Linked DNA regions of Homo sapiens. The protein of the gene in region 1 interacts with the protein of each later gene in a biochemical or structural test. Each region holds a gene or a part of one and is shown in the gene's direction. Other genes may lie near its edges.

Region 1 (3,808 bases):
CAGCCCATCAGTGCAGACATTGCCTCCCGCCTGCTGAGGTGAGGGGAGTGTTGGGGACCAGAAGAGGAGGAAGCAGAGAGAGGAAGGCTGCAGCGAGGCCACAGGGTGATTGTGGGTGAACTAGAAAAAGGTGACTCTTGTTTAAGCCTGCAGTGAGCCATGACTACACCACTGCACTCCAGCCTGGGAGACAGAGAGACCCTGACCTTTTTTTTTTTTTGAGATGGAGTCTTGCTCTGTCTTCCAGGCTGGAGTGCAGTGGTGCAATCTTGGCTCACTGCAACCTCCACCTCCCGGGTTCAAGTGATTCTTCTGCCTCAGACTCCAGAGTATCTAGGATTACAGGTGCCCCCCCACCACGCCCGGCTAATTTTTGTATTTTTAGTAGAGGGTTTCACCATGTTGGCCAGACTGGTCTCGAACTCCTGACCTAGTGATCCGCCCATCTCGGCCTCCCAAAATGCTGGGATTACAGGTGTGAGCCACCATGCCTGGCCGGGACCCTGACTCTTTAAAAAAAAAAAAAAAAAAAAAAAAAGTGACTCTTCTGGATGGACACAGCCTTTCTCCAGGGTCTACTGTCTGGCAACTAAAGTTCCCACTGGATTGCACACCTACCTCAGCTGAGAACCATCCAAGGCAGCCCTGACTGCACTGCCCTACCCAGGCAGCGTCCAGAGGCAGCGATCTGGAGCCAGAAAGGGTGGGAGGGAAAGAAATAAGGAAAAGAGTGATTTGGACTCTTCTGGGTCTCTCTACAACTTCCCCCTTTCTGCCTTCCTCCTCTCCAGGAAGCTCAAAGGCCCTGTGGCCCCCCAAGAATGGCAGGGGAGCCTCCTAGGCTCCCCTTATCACCTGGGCCCCGGGCCACGACTGCGGCTAGTGGTCAACAATCACAGGACCTCCACCCCCATCAACAACATCTTCGGCTGCATCGAAGGCCGCTCAGAGCCAGGTATGCTGTGTGTCCAGTATCACTCACAGCTGGTGGTGGGCTGGGGGAATTTCTGCCCATACACCCTGGCAAGATAGGGGGCTGGTGCAGGAGGCCCCAAGAGGGGACAGGAGTGGTGCCCAGAGGAGGGAAGCTGGCAAGTTGAGGCTGAACTGGGTCTGATGGTGGCAGCAGTGAACAGACCTCACCTTCCAGCCTGTCTAGTGATGGAATGGGGGTTGTTGCCCAGTAGTGAGCTCCCCAGCACTGGAAGTGAGTAAGCCTAAGTTGGATGATGTTGTAATAGAAACTCAAGCATGGGCCGGGTGTGGTGGCTCACGCCTGTAATCCCAGCACTTTGGGAGGCCCAGGCAGGTGGATCACTTGAGGTCAGGAGTTTGAGACCAGCTTGGCTAACATGGTGAAACCCCGTCTCTACTAAAAATACAAACATTAGCTGGGCCCGGTGGCATGCATCTGTAATTCCAGCTATTCCGGAGGCTCGGACAGGAGAATCACTTGAACCCAGGAGGTGGAGGCTGCTGTGAGCCGAGATTGTGCCATTGCACTCCAGCCTGGGCAACAGAGCAAGACTTTGTCTCAAGAAAAAGAAAAAAAAGAGAAAGAAAGAAAGAGAGAAAGAGAAAGAAAAAAAGAAAGAAAGAGAGAGAGAGAAAGGAAGGAAGGAAGGAAGGAAGGAAGGAAGACTCAAGCATGAAAGAAAGATCAGATCAGATTAGATAGAAGCATAGATGGCCCTTTCAAGCATAGCTAGATGTGGATGGCAGTGGAGAATTAAAATAAGTAATTGACAGATGGGGCAACAAAGCCAAGACTTCACAAAAAATTTAAAAATAAGAGAAATTGGCTGGGTGCGGTGGCTCACGCCTGTAATCCCAGCACTTTGGAAGGCCGAGGTGGGCGGATCATGAGGTCAGGAGATCGAGACCATCCTGGCTAACATGGTGAAACCCTGTCTACTAAAAATACAAAAAAATTAGCTGGGCATGGTGGCAGGCGCCTGTACTCCCAGCTACTCAGGAGGCTGAGGCAGGAGAATGGCGTGAACCCGGGAGGTGGAGCTTGCCGTGAGCCAAGATCGTGCCACTGCACTCCAGCCTGGGCAACAGAGCGAGACTCCAAAAAATAAATTAAATAAATAAATAAGTAAGTAAGTAAAAGAAATTAGCCGAGCATGGTGGCACACATCTGTGGTCCCAGCTACTTGGGAGGCTCAGGCAGGAGGATGGCTTGAGCCAGGGAGTTTGAAGCTGCAGTGAGCTATGATCACACCACTGCACACTCCAGCCTGGGTGACAGAAACCTTGTAAGTCCAGAATGACCTCAGGCACCCAGCTGAAGGAGCACACCATCCAGGAAGGGCCAAGTGGGGAGGGGCGCCCTCTTTAGGGACTGGAGGGACTGCAGGGCTAGGGTTGCCGGAATTGTGATGGGCTGAGAGACACAGGCAGATGGAGGATGCCCCCAGGGTGCAGGGTGCAGTGTCAGAAGTGGGTCCCAAACATCCCCTCCCCAGATCACTACGTTGTCATCGGGGCCCAGAGGGATGCATGGGGCCCAGGAGCAGCTAAATCCGCTGTGGGGACGGCTATACTCCTGGAGCTGGTGCGGACCTTTTCCTCCATGGTGAGCAACGGTAAGGTCAGGGCCAGGGCCTGGGCCTGGGCTAGGCAGCGGTGGGCCTGTGGCCCGAGGAGGATAGGGCAGAGAGGCAGTGAGGGACACAGACTGGCCAGTGGTCACTTGGACCTCGGCATCCACATTGTACCTGAGTGGCCCTGGGCCAGTCACTTCACCTCTATTTCGTCACCTAAAAATGAAAGTGAGGCCGGGTGCGGTAGCTCACGCCTGTAGTCCCAGCACTTTGGGAGGCCGAGGCAGATGGATCACCTGAGGTCAGGAGTTTGAGACCAGCCTAGCCAACATGGTGAAACCCTCTACTAAAAATACAAAAATTAGCCAGGCGTGGTGGAGGGCGCCTGTAATCCCAGCTACTAGGGAGGCTGAGGCAGGAGAATCGCTTGAACCTGGGAGGCGGAGTTTGCAGTAAGCCGAGATCGCACCACTGCACTCCAGCCTGGGCAACAGAATGAGCCTCCTTCTAAAAAAAAGAAAGAAAAGAAAAGAAAAAAAGTGACATGAATGATAATCATAGTCCATGGGTCTGTGTCAAGATTAAGCATGTTGGGCTGGACGTGATGGCTCATGCCTGTAATCCCAGCACTTTGGGAGGCCAACACAGGAGAATCGCTGGAGACCAGGAATTCAAAACCAGCCTGGGCAACATAGGGAGACTGCATCTCTACAAAAGTTTTTTAAAAATTGGCTGGACTTAGTGGTGCATGCCTGTAATCCCAGCTACTTGGGAGGCTGAGGCAAGAGGATGACTTGAACCTGAGAGGTCAAGGCTACATTGAGCCATGATTGCACCACTGCACTCCAGCCTGGGCGAGAGAGTGAGATCCTGTCTCAGAGAGAGAGACAGAGAAACAGAGACCCTGGGGGACCAGGACAGAAGAAGACAAGGGGAGGGTCTTTGCTTGGCCCCTGCTAAGCCTGTCCTCCTTCCCCTCTGTCCCCAGGCTTCCGGCCCCGCAGAAGTCTCCTCTTCATCAGCTGGGACGGTGGTGACTTTGGAAGCGTGGGCTCCACGGAGTGGCTAGAGGTGATACGGGGTCCCGGGCAGGTCGTTAGGCATTGGGGAGAGGTGGGGGTGGGGGGTTCCCACTCCACACTGGTCACCCACCCACAGGGCTACCTCAGCGTGCTGCACCTCAAAGCCGTAGTGTACGTGAGCCTGGACAACGCAGTGCTGGGTGAGCTGGGGCAGTGCCACCACCTGGCCCCCTGGGG
Region 2 (4,287 bases), on another chromosome or scaffold:
TCCCACCCTACTGAAATCAGAATCAGTCCCTGGACTGGATGACAAAAAGCACCCCAAGGGATTTTTATGCATAGTAAAGTTTGTGAACCATAGCTGTAGGCAAGAGTTATGTGTTCAGGTATGTATAATGGAAAAATTCTGTCTCAAATGAGGCAAAGTGGCCTACTAGTAAGCTGCTGCAATTGCTTTATTGATGAAGGCCTGGACCAGAACAACAATGCTAATAAACAAGAGAGGATGGATATTTAGAATTATGAATTCAAACCATCTGACATAAGAAGTGAGAGATCAGGTGTCCTCAAGGTTGGCTCCCACGCATAGTCGGCTGCTGGTGGCATTCATCAACACAAATGTAAGCTGAACAGGTTTGAGGAAGACGGAAGAATGTCCGGGCTATTTCGGACATACTTTTGATAAACCACGCACGTGGAAATGCCAAGCAGGCAGTGGGATACGTGGGTCTGAAGCTAAAAAAGGAAGTCTGTACTAGCTATATTATAGATCCAAGAGTCACCAGTAATTGCTCAAGCCCGTGATATGGAGGAAACTACCCAGCTGAGTAAAAGATGCTGCAGAGGGGAGACTGACATGGTACTCCAAAGCAGCAGGACGAAGACCGAACCATATAACTGCCACGTGTGAAAGCTAATTCACCCTTTCAGAGAGACTGGGGCTAGTGAGCCCTGATGGGGATTGCAAAGGGAGCAGTTAGCACGCGAAGGGAGGTAGGTGATACCTAATCACTCGCTGGATGACATTCCGGTAGCGCAGCCTATCAGCTTGAATGTGAGGATTGCACAGAGCCTTCTTCAGCTCCTTCACCACGTCCTCGGAGCCAAGGTACGGCATCTTCCTAAGAGTCACAGGGCAGCTCCCACAGCTCCCACGGTAACTCGAGGGCTCCTTCTCGTCCTGATGTGGGAGCCTGAGTAAAGGAAATATGAGTCAGTGAAAATACAAAAGGCGAGATCTCGCCTCAGGCTCGGCTTCCGTAGGGCCGGCACGCTGGCCCTGACACACTTCCACGCCCTCCGCGACACCGCGAGCCCCACCCTAGGCTCTTCAGGCCCTACCGTCGGCCGGCAGGCCGTTCGCCCCGCCCACAGATCGCTCCCGCTACTTCTAGGTCCTCCGCCGGATTTCCAGCGCCGCGTCCGACTGACCGCAGACCCCTCCCTCTCCAGTTCCAGCCTTAATTCCCCCTCCACGCCGTTCTCATCGCGGATAGGCCCAATCTTGCTTTCTGCGGAAGTCCCGCCCCCTTGTCAAGAGACCAAACAGAAGACCGCTGCCGGTCTCCCCGCGAGCGAGCGCTAAGCGTAGTCCCGACTCCGACCTTAGGATGCCCTTCCCCCAACCTCTCACTCTCCAGGCGCAGCTGCGCGGCTCCCTCTGGTGGAGCTGCGGCGGGCAATCGGAAATCGGCTACTTTGGCCTGTCTCCTCCCTGCAGCGCGCGCTTTGAGTGCCCGGCTCGGCCTCCGCTCCCGCGCGGTTGGGAGTGTCCAGCGCCCTCCGCGATTTGGGCTCCAGCGGGCAGGGTGACTTCCTTTTTCTGCCCACTCTGGTAACTTATTGCTCTGCTGGGCTCTTTCCCTTAGGGTCTCTGGCCCTGTTCTTGCCCCAGCATGACTTTTATCGGGACGCCGTTGTGGAAGCCTCACGCAGGAGCCCTGCCCCCGTGGAGAAGATCCCACTGGTGACTCCAACCCTACCACCATGAATGGGGTCCTGATCCCCCATACGCCCATCGCAGTGGACTTCTGGAGCCTGCGCCGGGCTGGCACCGCACGTCTCTTCTTCTTGTCTCACATGCACTCGGACCACACCGTGGGCCTGTCTAGCACCTGGGCCCGGCCCCTCTACTGCTCCCCAATTACAGCCCACCTCTTGCATCGTCACCTACAGGTATGGGGCTGGAGTCGGTCTCCGAGAGCTGGTCCAGGCATCTGGGTTGGGACTTCAACCTGTCATTCTTGGAGTCATAGAATGGGGGCCACGAAAACTGATTTGGAAGTTGTTTGAACCCAAAAATGCATCTTTAACCCAGAATAGGAACGTGTTTTCGAAGTGACCAACTTGAGATAGTTAGCCATAAGTTGAGGAGATATTTTAATCCAGCCAAGGAAACTATTCCTACCTTTATAAGTAAGCTAGGCCGATGTTTCCCAAACTTGCCTTTTTTTTTTTTTTTTTTTTTTTTTTTTGAGACGGAGTCTCGCTCTGTTGCCCAGGCTGGAGTGCAGTGGCGCAATCTCGGCTCACTGCAGCCTCCGCCTCCCGGGTTCAAGCGATTCTCCTGTCTCGGCCTCCTGAGTAGCTGAGATTACAGGCGCACGCCACCACGCCCAGCTAATTTTTTGTATTTTTTGTGGAGACGGGGTTTCACCATGTTGGCCAGGCTGTTCTCTAACTCCTGACCTTAAGTGATCCGCCCGCCTCAGCCTCCCCAAGTGCTGGGATTACAAGCGTGAGCCACCACGCCCCGCCTAAACTTGCCTCATCTTAAGAATCCACCTAATGTGCTGGGTGGTTCTCCAGCTCTCTCCCCACCCCACCCTTAAGTCTCCAAGAGATTAAGATCAGGAGTAAGTTTGGGAATTGCTGACTAGACTGTTTGCTGAACTCTTTTTTTTTTTTTGAGATGGAGTCTCGCTCTGTCGCCCAGGCTGGAGTGCAGTGGCGCAAACTCGGCTCACTGCAAGCTCCGCCTCCCGGGTTCACGCCATTCTCCTGCCTCAGCCTCCCGAGTAGCTGGGACTACAGGCGCCCGCCACCACGCCTGGCTAATTTTTTTTGTATTTTTTAGTAGAGACGGGGTTTCACCGTGTTAGCCAGGATGGTCTCGATCTCCTGACCTCGTGATCCACCCGCCTCAGCCTCCCAAAGTGCTGGGATTACAGGCGTGAGCCACCACGCCCGGCCAGCTGAACTCTTAAATTGTACAAAGGGTGGGATGGGAAGTGGAAGGAGGAAGGGCAGATTGCTTGGGAATCCCCATTACAGCTTCTGCTCCCGGTGGCTCAGGATTTGGTCAGCTTTCCTGATTCATGTAAGGGATAGTCCCTGACCCGGGGAGGTAACGGAGAGGAGTCAGTGGTCACTGGGATGACTAACTGTTTTCTCAGGTATCTAAGCAATGGATCCAAGCCCTGGAGGTTGGTGAGAGCCATGTATTACCCCTAGATGAAATTGGACAAGAGACCATGACCGTAACCCTCCTCGATGCCAATCACTGTCCTGGTTCTGTCATGTTTCTCTTTGAAGGATATTTTGGAACCATCCTCTACACAGGTGGGCCTCTCAAGGAATCCCAGTGACTTCTCCAGACTAGATGTTTTTTTTTTTTTTTTTTTTTTTTTTTTTTAATGTATAGACTGGGGCCTCGCAGTGTTGCCGAGGCTGGTCTCAAACTCCTGACCTCAAGCAATCCTCCCGCTTCAGCCTCCACAGTAGCTAGGATTATTGGCACAAGCCACCACACCTGGCAGACTTTTCTTGAGCAGCCTTAACTCAATAGAAGTCTGGAGGCGCTGGAGGCCTTCTAACTTCATCACATATGAGCATAGTGACCCCATCTCAACTGATTTCCCACTGTTTTTTTTTCCTTCTTCTTTTTGAGACGGAGTTTCACTCTTGTCACCCAGGCTGGAGTGCAGTGGCGTGATTGTGGCTCACTGCAACCTCCGCCTTCTGGGTTCAAGTGATTCTCTTGCCTCAGCCTCCCAAGTAGCTGGGATGACAGGCGCCTGCCACCACGCCCAGCTAATTTTCGTATTTACTATTAGTAGAGACGGGGTTTCACCATGTTGGCCAGGCTGGTCTCGAACTCCTGACCTCAGGTGATCCACCTGGCTCGGCCCCCCAAAGTGCTGGGATTACAGGTGTGAGCCACTGCGCCTGGCCGATTTCCCACTCTTTAAGGGTCCGAACCTTGTGAAGAGTAATTGAAAAATAGGAGTAGGATGGAGACATTACAACAAAGAAACCATGCAGCTATACTGCCTAGTTCAGTGCCAGGCTACATAATAGTTTTTTCACAGACTAGTAAGCAAACGCCTGTCTATTGTTGGAGGTAGGAGAGGCTTGTCTTCTATTCTTTTGTCTCTGACCTTCTGCCCCCATGTACATATTCCTCCAGGTGATTTTCGATACACACCATCCATGCTAAAGGAGCCAGCCCTGACACTGGGGAAACAGATCCATACTTTATACCTAGACAACACCAATTGCAATCCAGCCCTGGTTCTTCCTTCCCGACAAGAAGCTGCCCACCAGATTGTCCAGC

Evidence for each region.
Region 2: the proteins of TFR2 (region 1) and DCLRE1B are reported together in a solved structure, tested with the Homo sapiens proteins (one study listed by BioGRID).

What each region holds. Positions count from the first base shown.
Region 1 is NC_000007.14:100,628,036-100,631,843, reverse strand, and holds part of TFR2 (transferrin receptor protein 2), read left to right. Parts: coding exon 1-38; intron 39-618; exon of another isoform or gene 619-688; intron 689-791; coding exon 792-955; intron 956-2,471; coding exon 2,472-2,591; intron 2,592-3,537; coding exon 3,538-3,620; intron 3,621-3,707; coding exon 3,708-3,771; intron 3,772-3,808. UniProt on the Homo sapiens protein: Mediates cellular uptake of transferrin-bound iron in a non-iron dependent manner. May be involved in iron metabolism, hepatocyte function and erythrocyte differentiation.
Region 2 is NC_000001.11:113,903,869-113,908,155, forward strand, and holds the start of DCLRE1B (5' exonuclease Apollo), read left to right. Parts: upstream 1-1,457; 5' UTR 1,458-1,718; coding exon 1,719-1,907; intron 1,908-3,127; coding exon 3,128-3,293; intron 3,294-4,140; coding exon 4,141-4,287. Other genes in the region: AP4B1 (AP-4 complex subunit beta-1), read right to left, coding at 737-849.